Regions from separate parts of the Homo sapiens genome. Here region 1 is linked to region 2. The links come from fine-mapping of genetic effects on gene expression. Tissue or cell type: whole blood. Region 2 holds a variant in brackets; the other region holds the start of a gene. All regions are shown on one strand. Distances are between the middles of the regions.

Region 1 (8,105 bases), 58 kb after region 2:
GCTGAGGGCAAAGCCACACCTCTTCTGGGGCAAGGTTAAATTTTTTACTATACACACCCATATGAAAGAGAAGCTCATACCCATCATAGGACAGAAAAATAGATAACACAGGAGCCCAGAGAGGCAGACATGCCAGGGAAGTCTTTGGCATTGAAACTTAAGAGCTTTAGTTTTTAAATTTTGTTATAAAAATTTCCAAACATACCAAAGTAGAATACTATAATGAATTCCCAATACCCATCATCCAGGTTCAACAATTATCAAACTGCCTTACTTGCTTCATCTCTCTCTCTCTTTATTTTCTTTCGTTTTTGGACAGAGTCTCGCTCTGTCACTCAGGCTGGAGTGCAGTGGCGCAATCTTGGCTCATTGCAACCTGCACCTCACAGGTTCAAACGATTCTCCTGCCTCAGCTTCCCAAGTAGCTGGGATTACAGGTGTGCGCCACCAGTCCAGCTCATTTTTGAGTTTTTAGTAGAGATGAGGTTTCACCATGTTGGCCAGGCTGGTCTCAAACTCCTGACCTTAAGGGATCTGCCCGCCTCAGCCTCCCAAAGTGCTGGGATTACAGGCGTGAGCCACCATGCCTGGCCTCATCTATCCTTTTCTTTTTGTGCTTAGAGAACTTCAACTATCCATGCTATTTCACCCCTATATCCTTAGTACACTTTTCTTAAAAATATCAACATTTTCTTATATAACCTTGACACCATTAACGATGATTTCTAGGTATCTTCTAACACTCTGTCCTTACTCAAAACTTCCCCAATTGTCTTAAAAATACCTTTTTCAGTTGATTTATTCTAATCAAGAGCTAAGTAAGGTCTACAAATGTGAATATTATATCTCGTAAGTCTCTTTTACTCGTGTGACACTGAGGCACTTTGTGCCTTAATAGTATTTCAAGGTCTAATATAAAAAACTGGCATATATATATATACACACACACACTCTTCAGAGAAGAGGGAGCAAGACAAACCAAAATGTTAAGGCCACATTTTAGTAAACACACAGTGTATTTATTTAAGAAGTCATTTGCCCAAAATTCTTTAAATAACGTTCGACCGTAGGCATTTACCTGCTTATATAGCGCGTAGAGTTTTAGCTTCACTTCGTTTCCTGGATCCTTTTTCAAGAGTTTCACTTGATTCATTGAATTTTCAAAGTCCTTCTGACTGGCTCTCATTGCTGTTCTATTCATGTGCAGCTGAACTACCGGGAAACTAGTGACCTGCAGAGAACTACAATTAGGCAGACTGATTTCTATTTGTTCCCAACCCTCACATTTCTGCAGCCTGATTTCTAATTGTTCCCAGCCTATACATAACAAAATGCCATGTTTGTCTATAGATATTTTCTTTATACTTGCCTCAGCAAACTGGCTGCAAATAATTGGCTGTAAGGATTCCAAGATAATAAGTCAATACAGAAGCTAACAGTAGTAACTTTAAATAAAAGGAAAAGTAACCATCCAGGGAGGTATCTGTAAGCAACTAAAGATAAAAGCAGCCAGAACAGGAATGACCATGTAAATTTTGCCAAAGGCAAGAAGTGAAGTGCATGCAAGACAGTGGACAGCAGGAAACCAAAAGGCTAAAGTGCACAGAATTTAGTGAAGTGTCCCAAAGTCCTGAAACAGCCTCTGCACTCACTGATAAGCCATAAGCTATATCAGGTCAATTCTTGCCTCTTTGCTGGCGAAGCTGGTGTTCCAACATACACACAGGTGGAAGGAGGGGAGAATGGATGTGAACATACAAGAAATATTCAAAAGAACACACGAGCAGTTGCTGGCATTCCAGATAGAGCCACAGCCTTCTCAGCAGATGGGAGGGAATCTACCTGCAGTGGAAGGGAGTCAGTGAAGGGGGCTCAGCAGGCGTGCCCCTTTCTATGGGTATGTTTAACCAGCCAGCCAGGAACAGAGCAGAAACAGCAACCACCGCGGGGGTGATCAGCACGTTTTTAAGCACACATAGTGAGCGGGGGTGGGGTGGCAAACTTGAATGCACAGGACTCAGGCCACAAGCTAAAAATGGAGTTCACGACGATGACACTGAATAATAGAGTTAATGGCAAAAAAGATGATTAAAATAATACAGGTTACAAAGCCCAAACCTAACACACAAACACAATTATGTAACTCGAAAATGGTGCAATGAACTCTAGGTTCAAACTTTGGACTATTAGTAACTGATTCAGTAAGATCAGCCTAGAGTAAGTTTTACATTAAAATGATTTTCTGTAAAGGGAAAAACTGCATCTTATATGGCAAATTCCACGTAGAAAACGAAAGAAAAATTTAAAATATCCACAGAAAGCCGAAATGTACAAGTTTCCACAAAATGTGGAACAAATTTATTTTTAAATAAAGCGTGAGTTTTAAAAACAAATAGCAAAAACACGACCATTTAAGAAAATACATAAAGTCGGGAAAATCACTCATAATTCTACCACTTCAAGGCCACCACCGTGTTTCGGTTTTGTTCCCTATGCACAGATTCGTGCGGGTTCCCGGGACCCCAGGGAGGTGCAGCGTGCTTCTTAGCCGTTACTCTGTACCCGGCCATTTCACTTTATAGCATACGTGTTCTCCAAGAAGCAGAGTGTTAAGTCCACACGAGTGATAACGGCTTGCGTTTACCTCGCTTTTAGCAAGCGACGCTTTGCACCCCAGAAGCAGCCCGGCTGGGAAGTGCAGGCCCGGGTGCTCAGCTGGGGCGGCTCACCCGCCCGGAGTCCGGCCCCAGGAGGATGGGAGCGTGCGCGGAGGCAGGCGGAGACCTTGGGGACTGCTGACAGGGAACCATAGCCCTGACCTCCCGACGCGCCCATCCTGACCACTCCGGGCCCAGCGGTGCAGGAGGGCGCGCGTGAGGTCGTCACTTTTTAGCACTACCTCACCGGAAAACCAGCAAAGCAAAATCCTGTTGCCACCTAGACAATAGGGAAGGAGGGTCTTCCAACGGCGGCGACCTTCGCCTGGACAGCGGTATCCTGCGGGCGACCATGGGCCGAACGGCCGGGACTCCAAGCTTACCTCGGACACGAACGCCGCGCCAGTCTCCAAGCCAAGTACGCCATCGCCATCCCTTGGGCGGCTCTAGGGCTGCGGGGGCTCGGGGGTGGGGCCGGGTCTCGGGGGCGGGGCCTAGCTCGGTCTGCGGGGGCTCGGGGGTGGGGCCGGGTCTCGGGGGTGGAGCCGGGACTCGGGGGCGGGGCCTAGGCTCCCGGGCTGCGGGGGCTCGGGGGTGGGGCCGGGGCTTGGGTGCGGGGCGGGGCCGAGAGCAGAGCCCAGGCAGGAGCCTGGGGCATGGGCGGGGCCAGGGTTGGGGCGGGGCCAGGCTGAGAGCGTAGCCACGCCGCATTCGCCATCGCTAGCCCGTGGCCTCCTCTGGGGCTGCGGGGGCTCGGGGGTGGGGCCGGGGGGGTCGGTGCGTGGGCGGGGCGGGAGCTCTAGGCGGTTAGGAGTCGGGGCTCAGATGCGGGGGCGGGGCCGGAGCGAGGCCGGGTATCACCCGGGAGTGGAGGAAGTGCGGGGGGTTCGCGGCGCGGGGAGGGTGATCCCGGGAGGACTTGCGCGGCGCGTGGGGCGGGGCACAGATGCTCCCCGGCCTGGCTCCGAGTAACTGCGAGCTGGAGGCGCGGCTGCTCTCTCGGGCGGACCTCAGCTCTGCGAACCCTGTGGCTGCCGGAGCACTGAGCGCCCTGCCCGGAGTCCCGCGGAGCCTGGCGAGGAGGGGTCGCTGCATCCCGAGGGCCAGCCCTGAGCCGGGAGGTGGGGTAACAATTGAGGGCGTATGCTTAAAAGCTGCTAGGTCATGCATCCCCAAATCGAAGGTTTGCAGACCTGGTAGGACGCCTGGGGGTCAGAAGTGATTTTTGGAGTACCCAAGTTTTTAGTGTCAGTGAAGAGTTTGTGGATATTTTTGAGTTCTGCTGAGGCATTTGCAAAGTATTTTCTTTGGGGAAGAATTCTTAAGAGTTGGAAGGGCCTTGGCTGTGTCACCTTGTCCAGTTCCCAGAGAACCAAAAAACAAAACAGAACAAAACGAAACAAAACCACCCCTCTAAATTCTGTGCCCAAGTTGTCCCATCCAAGCATGCCTAGGAGTTTTAGATTTATGTAGCTGACACCTGTGGACTACCTATAGTGAGCCAGGCTAATTGTAAGTCTTTGGACAACCCTGTAAGGAAAATGATATTGCCCTGTTGAGCTGATGTGGAAATTGCCCTGTTGAGCATATTGCCCTGTTGAGCTGATGTGGAAACTGAGACCCAGAAAGATTAATCAGGTGAATTCCCCAAAGACAGGAGGCTTGCAGGTGGGCAGAGTCCAAGTCTCAAGTAACTTTATCATTAAGTTTCATCAGGTAGATCTGGGTAATAGTGTAGATGGGGCAACACCAAAAGTCAAATAGAACAATTTGGGCTTATCCCAAAGAGATTTTTTTTTTTTTGAGATGGAGTTTCCGTCTTGTTGCGTAGGCTGGAGTGCACTGGCACAATCTCGGCTCACTGCAACCTCCACCTCCTGGGTTCAAGTGATTCTCCTGTCTCGGGCTCCCGAGTAGCTGGGATTACAAGCATGCGCCACCAGGCCCGGCTAATTTTTTGTATTTAGTAGAGATGGGGTTTCACCTTGTTGGTCAGACTGGTCTCAAACTCCTGATTTCAGGTGATCCACCCGCTTCGGCCTCCCAGTGTTGGGATTACAGGTGTGAGCCACCACACCTGGCCTCTCCATATATTACAAAGTGGTAGTTGGTAGGCTGAGCTGCCTCTCTCAGAGACCTTGACTCTCTCCAAGGCTGTTAGATAACCTCAGAGGTAATGGAAATGCAGTAATCAGATATTGCAGATAATACAAGACTCATTCATTTCCAGAAGATGAAACAGCTGTCATGGAAATATTTTTTAAATCTCATACTGGTAAGCATATTTTGATAGTGAAACCTTTTGCAATGCAAGCAAACTACTCTCAGGCTTATACCTACCACAGAAAAGAGTGGGGTGTGGGAAATTAGCTTATCTTTTTCAAACTATAATTTTAAAAATATAGAAAGAGCATGTGTCAAAGATTTACTTAGCTCATTAATTAGGGAACCAACAGGGTGCTAAAGAAGAAGTTAAAAGACTAGTTTAATATAGTCAATGTTAAAAAAAGAATGCTGGAATAGATTGCAAAGTTAGAAACAAAACTGGTTAATATCCCATAGAGCAATAAAACCATAACCTCGGGAGGAATGTTTTTCCTATTGGAGAAATCATTTGCATATCTACCAGCTGTCATTTACTAAAGCCCCATTATATCCAGCATTTGAGAGAAAGGAGATGGTTAAAGAGACAGACATTCCTGGTTAAAGAGACAGACATTTAGATTCCTAGATCCTAAAGAGGGTCATCTTGGGTCCGTATTTGGTTTACTAAACTGTTAAGAGGTGTCCAGACCATGCCTTGTAAACATGGCTGCCATGGCCCTGTGGGTGGGAGGGCCAGTTGCAGCAAAAGGGAACCATTGTGATTTTGGTAGATTCTCCACCTGAGCTTGAAGATCATTGTATCTGTGCTAAGGAGTTTGGATTCCGTGCTGAGAGCAAGCAGAGAGCCATTGAAGATACAATTGGCATGCCCAGCTATCCAGTTCTCAGTGAAATCCTGGACTCCAGATATATCTTCAGGGTGTAATGGTTCTGGATAAGAGTAGGAAAGGCAGAAACTCAGTCAAGACCTCTCTAAAGCTCTAATCTTCACCCTGTTATATAACCAGCTTCCCCTGGAGCTTATGAAAATCTTGGGGAGGGGGTCCTCCAGTCTGGTTAGATCCTGTCTTATTGATTGCAGGGGACTGATGCTGCCTGGGAGGGCCGTTGATGTTCTTTGGGTTGAGAGAATCTCAGACTCTCTTAGCAGGTGCACAGGAAGTGTTGTCTCCGGCTATAATGAATCTTTGGGGTCAGCATATCGACTTCACAGTGTTGTGCTCAGTGGTAGTGTGAATGTTTCTTTTTTAAGATCATAGAATAGATTATATCAGAGTAGAATGTTACATGATGACTCTGTCAGTCATGATAATTTTTATTTCCAATATTTACATCATCAGATACTGTTGTTACAGCATGTACAGAGTCTGTCACATTCAGTCTTGAGGAACAATTCTGATACACTGTCCCAATTAACAGTGCAAGCTAGAAACCTGGAAGAGTCTTTGATTCCCTTACCTCACTGACACCTCACATCTATCATTCATCAAATACTAGTGATTCTGTCTCCTAAATATATTTTTTTAATTTTCCCCCTCATCTCACATCCCTCTGCATCGTCTTAATTCATGCTCTCATTGATTTTGAGATTACTGTTACCTGGATTCCTGTAGCAGCCACTTCCCAGTTTTGCTAATTCAGTTACCTCTGCAATCCATTCTCTCCCTGCTTCCAGGCTGGTCTCCCTAAATTTTAAATCTTACACTCCACACGATTCTCCCCGATCTCTCCCCTTGGCTGAAAATCTCTTAGTGAGTCCCCTTTGCCTGTTAAACAAACCCAAGCTGCTTAGCACTGGCAAATAAGGCCCACAAGATTTGCCCTTGCCTACCTTCTCAGGCACCTCTTTCCAGCCCCACATGTTAACTTCCCATTTCAGGTGAACTTGGGATGCTCAGTTTCTCTGAGTTTCCAGGTTCTCTCATTCCAGGCATTGGCATATCCAGGAATCTCCTCTGACCCACCCACTGGTTAGTCCTGTCCTGAGTTCCTACAGTCTCCTGGGCGTTTCTTTCTTCTGGCCCCTATGTCACTGTGTTTTATATCTGATTAGTAATCTATTTTATTACAAGGGGCATATCCTGGGAAGAATTCTACCCTGTATTCAACCCCTTTCTCATTTCTGGACACACTGCTTGACAGAAAATACTGTACTCTGTGAAGGTTTGTTGGATGATGGATGAGCTGTTGAAAGTTTCCTTCTAGAGCGTGCTTTTCCACATTTGATAATAAGTTGTGAGTCAGTTGCTACCTTTTCATTAAGTTGTCAGAAGGTGTTAACATGAGTGTTTTTGTGGTTTGAAATGTTGCTTTTTCAGTGAGTGGTAGCTAAAGGCAGAGGACTTTGACTGTTGCCAAGTTCCTGTGCCGAAATGAACTGGGGAGAGTGGTACGAAGGCAACTGTGGTGTTACTTAACTCTATAAATTTCTGGGTGAAAAATCTATTATAGCTTTTTCCATTAGTCATTAAAATGATTAGTCCACGTTCAACGTTCTGTATCATAATTGTTTCCTGCTTTAGCTGGATGACATTGCTTGAGATAAATTAAACCTGTGGCATTATTATGTCTCCTTTACAAAATTAATCCTCTTTTCTTCTTCCTAGCTAGGCTTTGTATTGCCTTCCTACACAATCTTATATGTCAGAGATATTAAAAATAGTATGCTGGAATATTACCTGCTTTGGGGTGTTTTTCTTATTTCCCATCGTTATAATTTAGAGAAGAAAGTCATTTCAAAAGTAAACATTTGGCTCATGTTATCACCTCTGTCTAAGTGCTTTACACCTGCGTGATTTGTTCATTCATCCAAGGCTCTTTTATCCACTCTTTCTGTATGTTGCACAAGCATTAACCTGACCTTGTATTTGAGGATACTTTTCAACTATCCTTCTGTAGCAAAAAAAAAAAAAAAAAATTATTTTTGGAGGACTCTCCCTCTGAAAATGATTGGAACTGATAGATACACTGTGTAAGAAATGGCTGCTTTTCTGAAGTCATTCCATTTTTTCTTGTTTACACCACAGCTTAAATTAATTTACCTGTCCTAATGAATACATAAGAACAAGAACAATACCTACAATTTAGTTAACCACAGAGAGCCACAAAGACAATTATATGTATTCAACACAATGTCATATAATTTACATGCATTTAAGGGCTGAGAAGAATGTTCAAGAATGGCATCCGTGGTTCGTAGGCAGGTGGTATCCTTATTGACTCAGCAAAGGTGCTCCTGCCTTCTCTGTTCTGCACAAGAAAGAAGTAAATTTAAAATTCCATCCATAAATCAGCAGCTTGACTTTAAATAAGATTAGAAAAACATAGTCAATCCTTATTTTT
Region 2 (8,105 bases):
ATTGTTGAGGAATCAGGCTTTTACAATAATTTGTGGTTTCGTTCACATTTTGTTAAATATAATAACACAGGTTTTCAAAATTGATTTTTAAAATGTAATAAAATGTCCTGTTCAGTGTGCCTCTGGAACACAATGGTGCATTCATCAAACTTTCTATATCTGAGTATCAGATCTAAAAGTCTATAAAAAGCCAGGTGTGGTGGCTCATGCCTGTACTCCCAGCACTTTGGGAGGCCGGGGCAGGTCAGGATCACCTGAGGTCTGGAGTTTGAGACCAGCCTGGCCAACATGGTGAAACCCTGTCTCCAATAAAAACACAAAAATCAGCCAGGTGTGGCGGCACGCACCTGTAATCCCAGCTGTTCGGGAGGCTGAGGCAGGAGAATCGCTTGAACCCAGGAGGTGGAGGTTGCAGTGAGCTGCAATCACACCACTGCACTCCAGCCTGGGCCACAGAGTGAGACTCTGTCTCAAAATACATACATAAATAAATAAAATTAAAAAAATAAAAGCCTGTAAAAATCTTTCCATCAACCACAGGAAGTCTCTAACCCTCATATTATATTCAACACTAACCAGCCCACTACTCATTCTGGCTTCCAGATGTGGAGGAACACTTAGGAAATATTCAAAAGAAAGCCAAAAATAAAACGGGAAAGGTGCTAATAACAACTGAGTATTTATGTTCCAGACATTGTGCAGAGTGCTATGGGGGAAAATGTGGGAGGTGTGTAGAAGATTATAACAATTTATTCTGGAAAACAGAAAGTGAAGAGGTGATTCGTTTATAAGAAAGTAACTTTTTAGGAATGAACCCAATTGTTTTCTGTCTCAAAAAAGCATTGTAAATTAAACTCTAAGCAAATGAAATGTGAGGTATTATTAGATACAATCTCTTCACTAAGGAGGAACAGAGAGAAATAAGCTTCAATACAGCATGAGGATTAATTTATCCACAAAGAGATATCTCCTGATAGGAAGGGTAGTTGAACATTGGAAGGGAGACTGCAGATTATCATTCTCTATAGATTTATGAAAAATATAATTAATAAAATTAATTCTCTGCTCTCTGGCATGATATGTACAAGGGCTAATCTCTACATGAGAATCACCTGGGGAGCTTTTTAAAAATAATAGTTGCAAAAAAATGCTGCAAATCCTGATTTTAAAGAATGAGGGTGAGGGCCGGGCGCAGTGGCTCAAGTGGCAGTAATCCCAGCATTTTGGGAGGCCGAGGCGGGCAGATCACCTCAAGTCAGGAGCTCTAGACCAGCCTGGCCAACATGTCGAAACCCCATTTCTACTAAAAATACAAAAATTAGCTGGGCGTGGTGGTGGGTGCCTGTAATCCCAGCTACTTGGGAGGCTGAGGCAGGAGAATCACTTGAATCCGAGACGCAGAAGTTGCAGTGAGCCACGATAGCACCACTGCACTCCACCCTGGGTGACAGAGTGAGACTCCGTCTCAAAAAAAAAGAAAAAAAAAAAAAAGAATGAGGGTGAGGCCCAGTTATTTGTATTTTAAAGATCCTTTTGTAGTTCACAGCACGATGACTGGGTTTTTATGTTCATGTGTGAGATGCACCCCTTCAGACTTTTTTACGATGTCTGGTGGATTTTTAAGCTTTTTTCAGCTATATAATCCTGATACTTTTGTATGAAATGCACGTGAGAGAAATATCCTCAGCTGATGAAACTGTGTTGTTGCAATTCTAAAATAAAATTAATGAAACCAGGCCAGGCATGGTAGCTCACACCTGTAATCCCAGCACTTTGGAAAGCCAAGGCGGGTGGATCACTTGAGGTCAGGAGTTCAAGACCAGCCTGGCCAACATGTCGCTACTAAAAATACAAAAATTAGCCGGGCGTGGTGGCACATGCCTGTAGTCCCAGCTACTCGGGAGGCTGAGGCAGGAGAATCGCTTGAACCCGGGAGGTGGGGGTTATAGTGAGTTGAGATCGTGCCACAGCACTCCAGCCTGGGAGACAGAGGAAGACTAAGTCTCGTCTCCAAAACAAACAAACAAAAAACACCAAAACAACAAAAAATTAACATAACCAAATTGATCAACTGGTAAAGAATGCTCATTAACTAAACATGAAGTCTGACAGTTTGCAAATTTCTTAAGAGTTGGGACTTGATTATGCTTTGTGATATCCCACCTGCCTTACCAATATTTTTCACAAAGGGTGTGTGTGTGAAAACAAAAGAAGTGAGCACTGCCTGGTTGATAACAAGGCAGCACCTTTAACAAAGCCAAATTGCAATTAGAAATGTTTGACATTTGGAGAAGAGCTGGCTAATTTTCCCTTTGTTAAAAGAAATAGAAAATTTCCATTTGCTGTTCCAAATGTGCCAAAAGGAAAACACAGGATAAACTGCCCACGATGCAAACGCAGCAAGGGCATCACTACAAGAAAACTCCATGGGAGTTACGTGTTAGCAACAGGAGCCGCTGCCCAAACACTCAAGTTCAACAGCGCCTGCCATACCTCCTGAGAGATGTTTGACACACGTAGGCTGTTAGCACAGTTCTCATTTCTTCTCCCCATTTTGTTGTAGCTGTTGCTCTGTTTCCTTAAAATCCTACACAGATTGCGGGATAGGCACATTTATGGGTAAGGGTCAACATTTATAAAAAAGAAAGTGTGAGTTTTGATTTCCCATCTAAAGGAGGTAAGAGAATGCTTAGAAAGCAGAAGAGAGGGGCTAGGAGAGCAGGGTGGGGGTGACAGTACGAAACCAACCAGAAGCAAGGGGCAAGCCTGACTCAAAAGGAGCACAGACAACAGCAAACTGGCAGATCTCAGAACAGAAGATTAGGAAATTGAGATCAGAGGTGAGAAAGCAAATATCAGCTAAGAAGATGAAATACACATTGGAACAAACTATGGTGAATTATCTGGAACTTAGAAAACAGGGGCACAAAGTCTCCTTTTATTCATTCAAAACAATTGCTCCATTTGAAAGCAGGGTTGAACCCTTACAACTAGGCCAGGCAAGCACCCCGTGCATATTTCGGAGACAACAAAATGCCCCCAGGACCAAACAATATTTTCCGCACCAATCAATCAAGGTACCTAAAGGGTTTTAACCCACTGCCGTTTAAGGTAAAAGAATTAGAGAACTCTAAGGTAACAAGCAAAACAGTCACTGGATTAAGGTATGGCTATCTGGAAAGAATCACTTTTTTTTTTTTTTTTTTTTTTGAGACAGAGTCTCGCTCTGTTGCCCAGACTGGAGTGCAGTGGCGCGATCTCGGTTCACTGCAACCTCCGCCTCCCGGGTTCAAGCGATTCTCCTGCCTCAGCCTCCCGAGCAGCTGGGATTACAGGCGAGCACCACTACGCCCAGCTAATTTTTATATTTTTAGTAGAGATGGGGTTTCACCATGTTGGCCAGGCTGGTCTTGAACTCCTGACCTCGTGATCCACCTGCCTCAGTCTCCCAAAGTGCTGGGATTACAGGCGTGATCCACTGCACCCGGCCAAGAATCACAAATTAAAGCCACCGCAGTAATCGGTCTATCTGCTAATCGTTTACAATTGATTGTCTCCTACAGAAAAGTGTATGAAGAAATAGGAGATTTAGTTTAGGTAGGTTTTCAGCCAACACCGGTTATTGGTCCACGAGTGTGTGCATGCCAGACACTAGGTCTGAATGCAGGAGGAAGGCGGTTGCTGAGCAGGTGGCGCTGCCTGGGGCCACCGGGTGTGTGTCAAGAAGGAGGGCATCCAGCTCCTGGAAAAGGCCACCGCACCTGAAGGACGGCCCTGGGGACAAAGGACGCCTTGGGGACTGCGAGTTGGGGGACAGGAGCTTTAGGGGCCAGAGTGCTTGAAGGCGCGTGTCTCAAGGGAGCCGCAAGGCCCCCGTGAAGAGGAATCCCCTTTTCCTCCTGAGCTGTGGCCGGACTGGGTGGGGAGCCCAGTTCCAGGGGTAGCAGGAGGGGGCTGCGGGATTCCCCGGGGCCGGGGCTCTCAACCCACCGCGCGAAGGCCCACGTGTCCTCCCCGGCGTGCTCTCCCGGTGCGCCGCCCCGAGGCCCGAGCGCCTCCGCGTGCGTGGCTGACGGCTTGGAGGGCGCCCCCTCTGCCGCGGCCTTCCTGCAGC[G/T]GGGGGACAAAGAGGGCGGCGGGCGGCTGGCGGCCTTGAGCGCAGCCCGGTCGGCAGTGCAGGGCCTGCGAAGCCCGCGGGCCGGCGCAGGGGTGGGAGTCGGGCCCGGGGCCCAGAGAGACCTTCCGGGGCCGGGGCTGCGGCTCCGCGGGCTTCCCCACCGGCCGGGTCTCCCGGCAACTACCAGAGAGCGGGGGCGCCCGGGGAGGCCCGGCGTTCCACAAGGTCCACGCGTATTCGCGGGCCGCGGGGTCGCCGCCGGCCGCCCAGGCGCGGAGCCTCTCGGGGGTCACCCGGCCGCCGGGCCCGCGGGACGCACGGGGCCGCCAGGGGAGGACAACAAGCCTCAGGCCCTGTCCCTGCGCCCCGCCCGGCCTCCCCCGCGGGGCTGCGCAGCCCACTCGGCCATCCTGGCCTGAAGGGGCCGCCCCCGGCCTCGCGGGAAAGCCTGAGCCTCCCGGGCCTTCTCGGGCCTTCTCGGACTTTCCCCCAGGCGTCCTGGACCTTCTTCGGCCTTCCTGGGCCTCCTCGGGCTTCCTTGACCCTCCCCAGGCCTTCCCCGAGGCCTCCAGGCCCTTCCCTGGGCCTCTCCAGGCTGAGCTCTCCGCGACATGGCCAGTGGGCCTCTGGGACCCGGGGCCCGGCCCACCCGCCTCCACCCTCCATTCCCACCGCCTGCTCACATCAAGCCAGGAGCACCGCCCGGTACGTAGTCCTCCAGACTAAGCTACAATATATACGCATTGATACATGTGAAGTTATATCTATGCTTGTACAATATATTAACATAGAAGAAGAGGCATCCTTGTTGACACCAAGCTCATCCGGTCAGTTTCAGGTCCGTCGTCGGCCTTTCAATAGGAAAAACAAAAGATGATTTTTTTTCTTTTTTCATGTAGAGGATACATGTAAATCACACAGCCCAATTTTGTACCCCGAAATGCATATCTCCTATTACAGCTTCATGAAATAAGTGGAGGGGTGGGGGAAGAATCTCTCTCTATCTAGTTAGATATATCTGCATAGCTATCATCACCCCCACCTTTTGATATAGAGAAAAATTTAAAACAAAATTAATTATATATTTAGGTACAGCAAATGAATACTAAACATTTGGGGGGATGAGATCACGGCCATGTCCCTCTGAGAATCTCCCCATAAAAATGCACTTATATACCACATGTTGAAAACAATGTCAGGGGTTTCTCAGGTTCTTTGATCCCTGACTCCTGACTCTTTCCTCTGCATTTCCATTTTCTCCTCAGAAAGACCTTCCCTTTAAAGAAGCTCTTCCCACCTTCCACCTACCTTACTCTATTTCATGACACCCCGTTGTTATTTACTTCTTTGTACTCCTCATAATCTTGCTGTTTACTTGTTTGTTTTTGTATTGTCTGTCTCTCCCCAGTAGAATATCAAACTCCATGTGGGCCGGGGCCTTGTCTGTCTAGTTCATTTCTGTATCCCCAACCCTTTAAAACTGTGCTGGGCACATAGTAGAAGCACAGTGGTAGAAGCACAATCGATGTAAGTGAACGAACAAGATTTGTGCAGGCCTCATTCCTTGCAGCCTCCTTGGAGGTTTCCCTTCTAGGGCCCTCTCTTCCTTCGGCTGTTTTCCATACTGCTGCTCTAAAATACAGACCTGCTCAACTGCCTCCTAATGCCGGAAGGAGGAAACCCTAATTCTGCAGCCATCCCTTAGGTATCTGCTCATCACCTTCCCAGCGCCCACTACATGTCAAGCACATCGGACATTTTACAATTTTCCTAAACACTCTCCTCCAGGGCATACATCATTGTTACTCTTCCTGTAATAGTACCTCCTTTTTATCTCCTTTTCTTTTTTAACCTGCCTAAATTCTAGTCATTACACTTCTAACTCACAAGTCATTTTTCCTGATTGTTCAGGAAGTGTAATTACTAGAAAAAATACAAAAAAAAAAAAAGGAGAGAAAACAAAAGTTGCTGTCTCCTCCAAGATCCTTGCTTCGTTATAATGATTTAATTACAGCCCCTTACTCAGTTACATTGTAATTATTCATTTACAACGTCTCAATCACTTTCTTTTCAACACCTTGAAGGTGATATCTGCCCATATTCTATCTAACAGAGTGCCTGGCATGTACTGTAGTAGGTAAGGCACTCAATAAATGTTTCAATTGATTTAATTATTGCAAAAATAGTATTTTCTGAAATGTATGGTGTGGTGACTATATGCCAGGCATAGTGCTGAACATTTTATATGGATTAACCAATGTATATGCCTGATAATCCAATGAAGCAGGTACCACCAGTTATTCCTATTTTATTTCTTATTTTTAATTTTTATTTATTTATTTTTTTGAGACAGAGTCTTGCTCTGTCACCCAGGCTAGAGTGCAATCGTGTGATCTCGGCTCACTGCAACCTCTGCCTCCCAGGTTCAAGCAATTCTCCTGCCTCAGCCTCCCTAGTTCCCTAGTAGCTGGGATTACAGGCACCAGCCACCACGCCCGGCTAATTTTTTGTATTTTTAGTAGAGACGGGTTTTGCCATGTTGGCCAGGCTGGTCTCGAACTCCTGACTTCAGGTGATCTGCTGGCCTCAGCCTCCCAAAGTGCTGGAATTACAGGCATGAGTCTCTGAGCTCAGCCTAGTTATTCCTATTTTATAATTGAGTAACCTGAGCCTTAGATGTATTATATAACCTTTTCCACCTTACAATTACGAGAAAAATTGCGAATGGGAGTAAATATTGGGGTACATGTATTTCCAGCTAATGCTTTCTACAAATGTATATCTAGCTGGGAAATGTTCCCCGCTCTTGAGACAAATTATGTGTGCTTGTGTGTGCACATGCACACGTGTGTGTAAATTCCAAATATCTGGCTTACACATTTCCCCTCTTCCTTGCTTTGTGTTTCTGTTCATGCCTTTTTCTGTTATTTCAGAACTCAAACTGATTCCTGATCCCTTAGAGTCCTTGTGAGATTTGTCATCCATAAATACATCCTCTAAGATTCTTTTTTTTTCTTAACAGAACTTATTCTTAAAAATGTTCCTTTCATATTATCACCCCCACTCAACTGGTCTTCCTTTCTCTGGAGACTTTTGAATGCTTTGACATCAGCATCAAAATCATGGCTGGCCATTCCCTCATTGCTAAATGTGCACGGCTGTGGAGATGTGAAATATGAAAGCGACAACTTGGAAATTGTGCCCTCTCCAAACCCTTGGGTCTGGTCTGGCTCTGGCCCAGCGTAGGAGGTTGGACAGTGGGTCATTTTCTACAGCAGCTCAGACCCAGCTCAACATCAATCCCAAGGCCAAAGAAAATGCACCTTCCTTCTGTTGGGGCTCGGAAAACAGTACCCCAAAATGAAGGCTTCGGAAATAGCCTCAGAAACACGTTTTTCTCTGACCTTCTTCTGCCCTCCTGTCTCTCAGTCCCAGTCTCCCTCCGAGGCTAGCCTGAGAAACTAGAATCCCTCTTCTCCAATGCAGGTTACAGAAATCAGAATGCTTTTTTCCCAAAGCCAGCCATAAAACCTAAAAATATTACTCCAATTTTCCCTTTGCCTTTCTGTGTAAAAACTGGCCATAAAGAAATTATCTGACCCCCATTCCAGAGAGTGGCCCATACCCAGAAGGAAGGAATGCTGCTCAGAGAGGCCAAGAAGAATCTAGAGAGACAGGCCTTGCTGGGTTCCCCCACTCAGGCTGTTAGCGTTAGATCAGACCTTTTTTGTCCTATCGTATTTCTACACAGCTGTCCATACTTTGTTGAACCTAAGCATAAAAATGGAAACTCTCCCCTGTATTTCTGAGTTTTCATTCTGTACACTCCCATGTATAAACACATGCTAAATAAACGTGTATGCCTTTTCCCCAATTACTCTGCCTTTTGTACTTGAGTACTTCTCCTGTCTCAGCCTCCCAAGTTGCTGGGACTACAGGTGCAGGCCACCACGCCTGGCTAATTTTGATTTTTCAGCAAATCTTCAGAGGG

The links. PIP is the estimated chance that this variant, and not a neighbour inherited with it, causes the effect.
Region 1: ECI2 starts here. The variant in region 2 is fine-mapped to the expression of ECI2 in whole blood (TOPMed, PIP 0.99).

Annotation. Positions count from the first base shown.
Region 1 is chr6:4,132,471-4,140,575 of GRCh38, forward strand. It overlaps ECI2 (enoyl-CoA delta isomerase 2), which reads right to left and starts at 3,105. Exons shown (of 10, transcript NM_206836.3): 1 at 3,041-3,105; 2 at 1,079-1,241. The coding sequence starts at 3,090. It overlaps ECI2-DT (ECI2 divergent transcript), which reads left to right and starts at 3,602. Exons shown (of 4, transcript NR_103764.1): 1 at 3,602-3,778; 2 at 4,891-4,932. It overlaps LOC107986559 (a long non-coding RNA gene), which reads right to left. Exons shown (of 2, transcript XR_001743933.2): 2 at 7,864-8,012. RefSeq lists silencers at 3,151-3,290, 3,451-3,660.
Region 2 is chr6:4,074,862-4,082,966 of GRCh38, forward strand. It overlaps FAM217A (family with sequence similarity 217 member A), which reads right to left and starts at 4,276. Exons shown (of 7, transcript NM_173563.3): 1 at 3,991-4,276; 2 at 2,494-2,587. The coding sequence starts at 2,553. It also overlaps the pseudogene LOC124901553 and the pseudogene TEX56P. The variant G/T (reference allele first, on the strand shown) is at 4,115.